Regions from separate parts of the Homo sapiens genome. Here region 2 is linked to region 1. Evidence: fine-mapped expression QTL. A gene starts in region 1. The other region holds a variant in brackets. All regions are shown on one strand. Distances are between the middles of the regions. Region 1 holds the start of PARVB (parvin beta). Region 2 overlaps PARVB (parvin beta).

What was found. PIP is the estimated chance that this variant, and not a neighbour inherited with it, causes the effect.
Region 2: its variant is the best candidate, but not a certain one, in a credible set for the expression of PARVB in whole blood (TOPMed, PIP 0.54).

What each region holds. Positions count from the first base shown.
Region 1 is chr22:44,021,464-44,026,830 of GRCh38, reverse strand. PARVB (parvin beta) reads right to left here and starts at 2,529. Exons shown (of 13, transcript NM_013327.5): 1 at 2,380-2,529. The coding sequence starts at 2,491. LOC124905131 (a long non-coding RNA gene) reads left to right here and starts at 4,056. Exons shown (of 2, transcript XR_007068125.1): 1 at 4,056-5,367. RefSeq lists enhancers at 262-371, 872-921, 992-1,041, 1,082-1,161, 1,172-1,251 and silencers at 2,022-2,231, 2,282-2,331, 2,402-2,521, 2,552-2,661.
Region 2 is chr22:44,066,874-44,072,240 of GRCh38, reverse strand. All of the region lies in intron 1 of PARVB (parvin beta), which reads right to left. Among named protein-coding and RNA genes, the nearest start is that of PARVB, 45 kb to the right of the region's middle. RefSeq lists enhancers at 2,725-3,288, 3,321-3,460, 3,621-3,770, 3,853-4,416, 4,417-4,982. The variant C/G (reference allele first, on the strand shown) is at 2,896.

The DNA.
Region 1 (5,367 bases):
CTCCCTTAGAGTCCTCAACTCAGGAACATGTCGGAGCCACATCCGTTCTCCCAAATCCACCCTCAACTTTCTAACAAAGGAGGAAATGAAGCCGACGGTGCAGCAGGCAGGGTCGTGGAAACCTCCCAAGCGCCCTGTCACTCCCTGGTAGGCAACCGAGCATAGCTCTGACGGCCCAAAGTCAGGGCCAGGGGCTGCTCCACCCTGGAGTGGCAGAAGCGCATGTTGCCAAGGCAAATGGGCTTGCGGAAATACCAGCGACTCTCAATTATTCAAGCCCTCATTATCCAGTCTTCCTGACTCTTCCACTTCCCAGGAGACCACACAGAAGCCGCTAAACCCTTCCCAATCCAGCCTGTCCCTCAATTCCTGTGCCTAGATCCAAGGAGGGTTTGTGGCCCTCTGTTTGCCAGGCACCCCAACCCTGAGAACCGAGGCAGGGCGCCCAGCTCACCCCCAGCGAAAGCAGCATCAGCAGTGCCCGGCGTCCTGCTCCTCCTCCTGCCTCCACGCCCGTTCTATTCAGCACAGGATGCTTCCTGCTACCGGAATTCTTGGTGCATTTGAATTAAACCAGGCTGGGCCTGAATTTTCTAGACACACATCAATTCATACAGGCAAGGAGGAGAAGCACTGCGTACTTTGGAATTTGGGCCCAGTCCATTACTTTGGGTGTGTGTTCTTCCTATTCCGAGAGCGTAAACGGCACCTAGAAAAAGCTGCAATAGCCCAGAACATTCCGGTTCCTTGCCATTCTATGAAAGACTTTTTCCTCTGGTTCCTTCTGGCCTCCACTCAAGTGTCCCCTCCTCAGAGGCCTCCCCTGGCTCTGATCGCCCTGTTCTATGTGCTCCGGGGCACGTCATCACAGCGCCAGTTGTCTATGTATTCATTCCCCGTTCCACGAAAGCAAGCACCCCGCCCCCGCTCTTTTCTTCCTGGGGTCTAAGCAGCACCTGGCCCATGGCGGGCGCTCCACAGGCTGTGGGCTGAATTGGGAGGGGAGCGTCACTTGCGTCTATAATCGTTGCAAGCCATAAAGAGGAACCGAAATGATTTCTGGTGAGGGTGCTGATGACTGCATGGAAGAACAGTGGGGATGATAGAAGGGTGACAGCCACTAATCATGTCATTTAGGAGACGTGACCAACACCGACCAATACAAGCTACAGTGGGTCCTCCAGTGTAAGGCTTGAGAGAAGAGTGACCTATCCGCCAGGAGACCTACTGAAGGGGACAAGACCCTGCCCTCTTGGAACAGGATCACGGGTGGGAAGACACGCATCCCTGGGGGCACAGGCATCCCTGGGAGAAAATGTCTGGGGAACCAAGCGTTCCCTGCACTGTACAAAAATCCTGGGGAGCAGGTGCATGGGGGCACACACATGCCTAGAGGCAAATCTGTCATATGTCTTCCCGGGGCACACACATCCCTAGGAATACAAGAGTCCCAGGGAAGAAATGAATGGGGGACCTGCATCCCGGGGTACACTAATCCCTGGAGGCACAGGAAGAGTTCCCAGGGGATATGTCAGGCCCAGGTGGTTTAAGGAAACCGTACTGCATACCCGCTATGGGAGGGCTCCTTCCCGGGGACCCACCTGAGGCCGGCCTTTCTCCATCTGCCTTTCCACAGCAGCTCCCCTCACCTCTCACCAATCCGAAATCTCACTATAGGGCATGGTCCCGGGGCAGAACCTCCCCACCCAAGCAGAAAATTCCAGAATGTATCTCCCAGGAGGCCCTGGGCAAGCGGTACACTTAAAGACACCAGACTATCCCTTGCAACTCTAACAATCTTTAAAACGTACGAGGTTGGTAGTGTTTCGTGAGCACACGCAGTAAAAAATTTAAAAAAAAAAATTTTTAATGGGATCTCTGCAATTCTTGCTCGCAGGCCTCCCAGGCCTCAGCCCTGCACGCCCTGAGCCCCGCACCCTGCAGGGCGCCCGCGCAACACCCAGTAGTGGGTCCCCCAGGCCGTGTCTGCCCAGAGTGCCCTGCACACGTGAGCGTCACTGCTCATGGAATGAACGGTCACCCCGCGCGGCTGGCTATGCCGCTGGCCCAGGGAAGAGCTGAACACCCGGCAGGCAGAGCAGGCGCGGGCCCCGCACGGTGGCCCGAGGTCCCCGCCGCGCAGGCGCCCGCACGCGCGTTTGGCAGACTCCGGAGGCCACCGCGGCCCCACGCGCCAGGTCCCGGCCGTTGTTTACGGGTCCTGGGTCAAAGGCCTGGCCTGTCCCGAAGGTCGCGCAGCCGCGTGGGCCGGGCGGGGTGCGTGGGGGAGGGCGGGGGCGGCCTCGTGGGGCTCTAGGGCCGAGGGCGGGCACCGCCGGGCAGGTCCCCGGGGGTCGGCGGGCGCGGGCGCGCACTCACCCTCGCGCGCCCTCCGCTTCCTGGCCAGGGTGCCGCCCAGCTTGCCCAGGAACGACTCGTCCTTCTTCATCCTGCGGGGCCGCGGGGTGGGCGAGCGCGGCGCGGAGGACATGGGCCGCGCGTGGGGCCGGCGGCGGGCGCAGCGCGTGTGGAGCCGCCCGGTCGCCCCGGGGAGAGGCCGAGGGCGCGGCCCCGCCGCCGGCCCCCGCCCCGGTCCCGCCCCCGCCCCTGGCCTGGAGCGCGGCCCCGGCGTCCCGGATGCCCGAGGCCTGCTGGTCCCGGCCAGAGCCGTCCCCGTCCCGCGCCGCCGCTCAAGCTCAGAGAAGGGGCGTGGGGCCACCCCGGGAGCGGCGCAGCCTTTTCCCTACGCGTTGGAGCCCTGGGCTCTGCTCGGCTCCGCTAGTGGTGCCGGATCCAGGCGACAGCGCGACAGACACCATTGCCACGTGGGTGCAGCCTCAGGACGTCCTGAAAGCCGGAGAGAATCAGGTCACACGAACGTGGCCGGTCTGTTGTTAAGCTTCTGCCAAGAGCCAGGCCCGGGGCAGGGGGAGCCCTTCAGAACTGGGAATTGTCCCTACCCACGGGAAGCTTAGAGGATGGAGGGCAATGCGGGGCACAGGTCATTGGCCTGACCTCCAAGGGGAGTTCCAGGAGTTGTTTCTGGAAGAGGCGACGGGGAGGCCCCAGGAAATGGCTTGCAGGCCGGTACCATGAGGTGAGCAGAAGAGCAGGCCCTGGGGACAGTGTGGGGTGCCAGGGAGGGGAGAGGAGGGGAGACAGGCCTCGCATGTGTTGGAAGCAGAGGAAACGGCTTCATCCCGAGGACTGCCAGACAGGGCTATTTTTATTTTATTTTATTTTATTTTATTTTATTTTATTTTATTTTATTTTATTTTATTTTATTTTATTTTGTTTTGTTTTATTTTATTTTATTTTTTTAGACGTAGTCTTGCTTTGTTGCCCAGGCTGGAGTGCAGTGGCACAATCTCGGCTCACTGCAACCTCCACCTCCTGAGTTAAAGCGATTCTCCTGTCTCAGCCTCCTGAGTAGCTGGGATTACAGGTGCACGCCACCACGACCGGGTAATTTTTGTATTTTTAGTAGAGATGCGGTTTTGCCATGTTGGCCAGGCTGGTCTCGAACCCCTGACCTCAGGTGATCCGCCTGCCTCGGCCTCCCAAAGTGCTGGGATTATAGGTGTGAGCCACCATGCCCAGCCTAGATACCCAGGCAGGGCTTTGAGCTGTGATGTCACAGATGTTGCCTCTGGCTGATGGCTGCTCAGCAGGTGCTGGAGACAGAGAAGGCACAGGCAGGCGGACGGTGACTTAGGAGAAAAGCAAACAGATTTCTGAGATGCTCACAGCCAGAAGCCCCAGCCTTGAAGAAGTAGGAGGAGTAGGCCAGGTGCAGTGGCTCGCACCTGTAATCCCAACACTTTGGGAGGCCAAAGCAGGCAGATCACCTGAGGTCAAGAGTTCAAGACCAGCCTGGCCAACATGGTGAAACCCCATCTCTACTAAAAATACAAAAATTATCGGGGCATGGTGGTGGATGCCTGTAATCCCTGCTACTTGGGAGGCTGAGGCACAAGGATCGCTTGAACTCGGGAGGTGGAAGTTGCAGTGGGCAGAGATCATGCTACTGCACTCCAGCCTGGGTGACAGAGCGAGACTCTGTCTCCAAAAATAAAAAAAAAATAAAAAATAAAAAAAAAGAAGTAGGAGGAGTGAAGGCTGGGTGTCCTGCCAGGCCATGGTGGATCACTCAGCAGAGGACGGCACCTGGGGAGAAGTGGGTTCAGCTCTGGGTGTGTGGGTTGAGATGGTTTTTCTGTCTCCCTTTGTGCTGGCTGCCCCCCAGTCCCCCCAGTGCAGTACATGTTTCTGTTGGTCAAGTTGGTGCCAGGCCCAGTCCTCAGCCAGGGGCGTGAAGACCAAGGGCACAGAGCTTTGTCCTCCAGGAGTTTGTGGTCAAGGAGAACGTGGGCACAGGACACAGTGGCCGTGTAGCGTGGCCAGCATGGAGGAGGGACAGGGACCATGTGGATGGGGTGGGGGAGAAGTGCTGTGGGCAGAGGAGGCTTGCAGGGAAGGGACATTTGACCTGGAACAAGGATCAAATGCCCTTTTCCTTTCAGTAAAGGAGGAGAAGACCCACCAGGCAGAAGAGACAGGGAGAGGACACTGGGGTGTCTTGGGGCTGCCAGCACAAAGTTCCATGAGCTGGAGGGCTCAGAACAACAGAAACGTCTTCTCTCACAGTTTGGAGAGAAATAACAAGGTCTACGGGAATTATGAGGCAGGCACGGTGGAGGAAAACCAATTGATAAATATCATCATCTCACAAGGGTCTTTGCAGATGATCAAGTGAAGATGAAGTCACCAGAGTGGGCTGTAATCCAAGATGACCGTGTCCTTGTAATACCCCTGTGTACTGGGGATTAGGATTTCAGCAGGAGGCCAGAAATCCAAATCAAGGTGTAGGCTAGGTTCATTTCCATTTGGAGGCTGCACGGGCAAATCTGTTCCCTGCATCTCTCCAGGCTCCTGGGGTTTGCCAGCAAATCTTCCATGTTCCTCGGCCTGTAGAAGCATTGCCCCGTCTCTGCCTCCGTCTCTACTAGGCCCTGTGTGTGTGTGTGTGTGTGTGTGTGTGTGTGTGTGTGTGTGTGTGTGTGTGTGTGTGAGTCTAGACTTTACAGGGACACAGTCATGTTGGATTAGAGCCCATCCTGGTGATTCATCTTCACCTCATCATCTGCAAAGACCCTGTGAGATGATGATATTTATGCATTGGTTTTCCTCCACCATGCCTGGCTCATAATTCCCATCACCCTTGTTATTTCCTCAGTGACTATAGCAATAAGCAGATCTTTTGTTACAATATTTGTTCTTTTTTCCTTGGTTCCTGAAGCAGTGTGGAAACAGCTTCAGAGCAATAAAGGGGAACGATAGTCCTGTGTTATCATGTTGGATCTTTGG
Region 2 (5,367 bases), 45 kb before region 1:
TCGCTCAGCCTCCCAATAGCCCGGAAAGGGGGACAGGGTAGGGAGGGTTCTACAGATCTGGAAACAATGGCTCACACAGCAAGGACTTGCCAAGGAAAAGCAGCTCCACATGACATTCACATTACAACTGACTCCGTTCAATTACAAAGTCCTTTCCACCCAACGACAGACGTGGGGCAGTCACAGACGCTTGAGAAACCTTCAAACGTTTTCATGGTCTCAGATCCCACTGGTAGAGAGCGAGGGAGGGAGGGAAGGAGGGTGTTAGAATCCAAGCCAGCAACTGGCAGAGACGCAGAAGAGGCCGCCCAGCTGCGCCTCCCTTCCTGGGTCCTGGCTTTGGGCCAGGCATGGACGCCTACAGGGGTTCTCAGCAATCAGGGTATGGGTTACCCCGATTATTGCCATTTTACTGACAAGGAAAGTAGATCTTGGGAAAGTCAAGGTCCCATAACTAGTAAAATACGGAGCTAGGATGTGATTCCTCCTTGTTTAGTTAAGAATTCAAAATAAACACCCATCACTAATCAGCCCAATCATGACTTCCAGGTCCTCAACTGCAACAGAGGACACGAAGTTTGGAAGGAGGTGACAAACTCAGGGTGAGGACAGGGATTCCAGTCAGGGCCTCTAGGAGCATAGGTGGTGGCTGGGAGGTTATCAATAGGCCACAGCGGGTGGAGGATGGGTAGCCCACAATGGAGGGGGTGATCCCAATGAGGTCCTCAAGCATTCAGAGCCTGGGGACCCCTTTTCTAAAAGAAAACTTAGCAGACCTCCTCCTTTCGTGGGTGGCTGTACTTTCAGACAGAGAAAAACACATTCAGCACAGCTTTTCAATTCGTTTGCATTTTAGGAAGCCCAGTGGATCCTGAGCAAAACTGAAGAAGTGGAGGATATATGAGCAGGACACCTATTTGGTCTCCATCAGTATCTCCCAAAGTGAGTCCTGCAGTTTAGACGTTCACAGGTCACACATGAATCAAGCAAAGGTCAAGGAGGTGGAGGAGTCGTGAAGTTAAGGGAAGCTAAGCAGGTGTCTTTTCCTACCGGACTTCTCAGAGTCTTGACTCTGCTAATGTACTGTGAGATTCTCCAAGGGGAGGGGACAGAGCGCTCAGTATCTGTTCCCCCACACCCCACACTGGCCCCAGGATGCTCTCTGGGAAATGTCGCTGGAGTGATACTGGGCTCCAGGACCCCTTTCACAGTGACTCCTACCCCACCAGGCCAAGGCGGGCGGGCAGGGGCCGGGGGGTCCTGGTCTGGGGTCTAGGGCAGGGGCCCTGTGACTACTAGGAACCACTGACTTCGAATAAGCCTGGCAAGGTTCTAGCCTCAAGGGTTAAAATCTGACACACCTGAGTGAAGAGAATCTGGTACCTTGGTTAGAAACAGCAAGGTGAGCAAAGTCCCGCACAGGTCCCAGGAGGTGCGGGCAGGGTCTACCCTCCTCCAGCCGCCAAGCCCCATCCACCCCATCCCGCCCAGCACTGTGCAGGAAAAGCACTCTGTGCGCAATCACCTTTTTGCCTTTTATTGCAAGGTCTATTGTCCCTGAAGAGCCTCATATAATGTGAGCTAAGAGATGCCCAGCATTCAATTTCATTATGCCCCTCCTTCCACCTCTGGTTTCTCCTCTAGAAATATCCCCACACATCTACAAAAAGCCTGTGAAAAAGATGCAGAACATCAAAGGCAAAAATCAGCCTGGGAGCTCCTCCAGGAAACAGCTCCTATCTTGTTCATCTGCGTCCCAGGCACAGCGTCCCTCTCCTTAAGGATACCCAGGCAGAGCTCAGAAAAAAATGTGCATTCTTTATTCCACAAAAGTGGGGAAGGAGCATTTACCAGGAGTTTGCTTGGTATCAGAAACAAAGGAGAATGTGAATAACTGTCATCTTACTGGGTCCCCTAGCAGGGCCCAGGGAGGCGGCCTTCAAGCTGAGGTTGAGAGCACTGACTAGGGAGCCAGGCTGTTGGGTACACTCCTGACTCCCATTCCGATCTGCGGTGTGACCTTGGGCAGGTTACTTAACCTCTCTGGGCTTCAGCTTACTCAACTGTAAAAGAAAACTTTTTAGGAGGATAGCACTGAGCAAAGCACGTTAAGGAGCTGGGATAGTCCCTGGGATGCAGAAAGCCCAGGACACATCAGCTCTACTGTTGTTCCCATTTCACAGGAGGAAAAATCGAACATAGGGCAGCCTGGCCGACCGTCACGATGGGCGCTAATAACAGCAAGGCTGGGCTCACTCCCAGGCATGCCCAGTGCAAAGCACCTTCTACTGACTCTGCCTCCCAAAGACAAGACAGAATATCTAGTGGTGACCAGGGGAAAGCCAGGCACCGGCCACGATCAGCTACTTAGAGGGGAAACACAGAACCGAAGACCACTAACGAGAAACCCATGGCCGGGCGCGGTGGCTCATGCCTGTAATCCCAGCATTTTGGGAGGCCGAGGTGGGTGGATCACCTGAGGTCAGGAGTTCAAGACCAGCCTGGCCAACATGATGAAACCCCGTCTCTACTAAAAATACAAAAATTAGCCAGGCGCGGTGGCGGGAGCCTGTAATCCCAGCTACTTGGGAGGCTGAGGCAGGAGGATCACTTGAACCTGGGAGGCAGAGGTTGCAGTGAGCCAAGATCGCGCCATTGCACTCCAGCCTGGGTGACAAGAGCAAGACTCCATCTCAGAGAGAAAAAAAAAAGACAGAGAGAGAGAAACCCACAGTATCAGGTACCCCTATGAAAAAGAAAATCTTAATTGCAGCATGTGCCTGAGAATGTTCCAAATCCCATTCTTCTGGGCCCAATGATCTACTCGCCCCCAGCAGAGTGCTGGAAATTTCACTCCACAAGTCAGACCCTCATCCCTCTGGGGCCGCAGTGAGA[C/G]AACCTGGACCCCCTTGCCCATCGTCCTAACACCAACGTCCCCATCACCTTCCTGGGAAAAGTCAAGCAGCCACCCAGGGTCCATTCTTGCAAAACAAAATTCTGCCATAAAGCAGAAAAGAAAAGAAGGGCTGGCCTGGGTTTAGCTCCTGCTGAAAATGATACGAAAGCAACAGAACTCACTGGCGAGGAGGGTGCAGCTGGCGGCAGCTCTGCAGACCAGCACAGCCGGCGGACGTCGGAGGGCAGGCGGGCACACACCCCGTTCATATAGGGACGTGGCAGGGGCGCCACTATGACTTGCACTTCAAGGGAAAGCCTCTTTGGGGAGCCTTTGAGGAAGGTCACAGAGGGTCAGGCTGTGGAAGGACCGGGGTGTTTCCAGCGATAGCTCCTTGCTGACCACAGACCACTATTTCTGTCTTGACTCCCATCAGCCTCATGGGCCAGGGCAACTGCTCCCCAGGAAAACCCCCATGCACAAAGAAGGAAGGAAGGGCGCGCCCAGGCCCCTGGGCTGACTGAAGATGCACGTGGCTCAGAGCTAAACTGAACAACAGACATTGGCCTCCCACTGCCTTTGCTCTCTGGGCCCTGAGACAGGAGAAGTGATTGGGGGTCTGCAAGCTGGCACGGAGCTGGGTCTCCTCTGCCTGACCCCCGGCAAGAGGTGGCACCACTGTGGGCACGTGCCACCCCAGCTGCATCTCCCGTGTGCCGACTACGTCAGGAGGACCAAATGCTAACACATGGAACACTTGCCACCCCGTTTCCACGACAACAGAAATCAAATATCGGACACAGAAAGAAGAAGCTGAGGCTGCCCCGACACGGAGGCGGCAGGCTGCTCTCGGGAGCACTCACTTCCCCAAAGGAAGGTCCTTGAATGAGGGGAGAAGTAGGACTCGCATGATACCTACCTTGGCCGGCAACTTGCTCCCCCTTTCCTCGGCCTGAACCCTCTCCTGGTTTATAACACCAGGCCCAGCCCCTCCCTACCAGGTGACACAGGCGGGCTCTCTGTCTGGTCTGGGTTCCTCGTCGGTAAAAAGGGGTTATTAACAATGACCAGCCTCATGTGCTGCTGTGGGAATCCACAAATTTCAGTGGTTCCTGGCATCCAGGAAGCACGATTAGCTTTTATTTATTCCAATTACCAGTCCCCCAACTCCCTGTGGAAGCTCTTTCCTGAGGCTGGCTTCCTGGAGGTGTTGCTCGATTAACTGACAATCCCAGTTCTGCTGAAGCAGGAAGCGGTGAGGCCCACGGGAGGCCCATGTCCCGACCCAGCAGGTGCTCCAGGCGGGGCTCTGGGGCAGGCAGTGGACTGGGACATGCCTGGCCCACTCCCAGGGGCACTAGTGCCCCTCTCCCATTCGAGGCCAGGATCAACAGTGAGGGCTCACCCGCCGGTCACCCCTGTCCCCCAACACTCCACTCCCACGGCACAAACCAAGCTTCATCCAGAGTCAAAACTAGGACTTGAGGAAGCAACAAAAAGACACCCAATGCCGATGCGAGTCCCCAGCACTAATGCAGGTCCCCAGGGCTAATCCAGGTCCCCAATGCTGATCCAGGTCCCCAGCACTGATGTGGTCCCCAGCTCTGATGCAGTTCCCAACACTGGTTTTGGTTTAACAGTTTTCCTGCTGGGAGACTTGATGCAGGAATCCAAGGCCAGGACAGCAAACAGCACTTCATGGCCCAGGAGATGCCTCGACAGCCAAGTGAGGACATCATGAGGGCACAGACAGGAAGGCCCTCGCCAGCCCAGTGCTCCATGGAGAGGGCCTTTCCATCTGCCCAGTGTCCAGTGCCACCCACGAAGGAAGGCTGGGGCAAGGGAGGGTCTTCCTGACGTGTGTGTATCCACTGAGCTGGCCAAGGAGATGCCTGGGGCTGGTGGTCAGCCCCTTGGGGGAGGAGGCAGAAATAACAGAGGATCAGTCAGGAAAGGAAATGTGATTAGCTTTTAAAAGGAAAATAACTACGCACTTGAAAAATCATAAAAGGATCAGCAGCCTAGTAGTCACATCTTAGAGTCAGGTTTAGACCACTTCAATGTAATGCAACTAACTAACATTTCATTCACTCACCCTGTATGCATCGACTGCCTCCTACCTGCCAGGCAAGGGGATTTCACAATGCAAGCAAGGCAGCCAAGACCCAGCTCCTGACACGCCATTTTCAGAATAAATTAAAGGGGCCTGGCACAGTGGTTCACACCTGTACTCCCAGCACATTGGGAGGCCAAGGCAGGAGGACCGCTCGAGCCCAGGAGTTGGAGACCAGCCTAAGCAACATAGTGAGACCCTGTCTCTACAAAAACTTAGCCAGATACAATGGCACATACCTGTAGTTCCAGTTATTCAGGAGGCTGAGGCAGGAGGATCACTTGAGCCTATGACCATCCCACTGCACTCTAGCCTGGGCAACAGAGTGAGACCCTGCCTAAGAAGAAGAAAAAGAAAG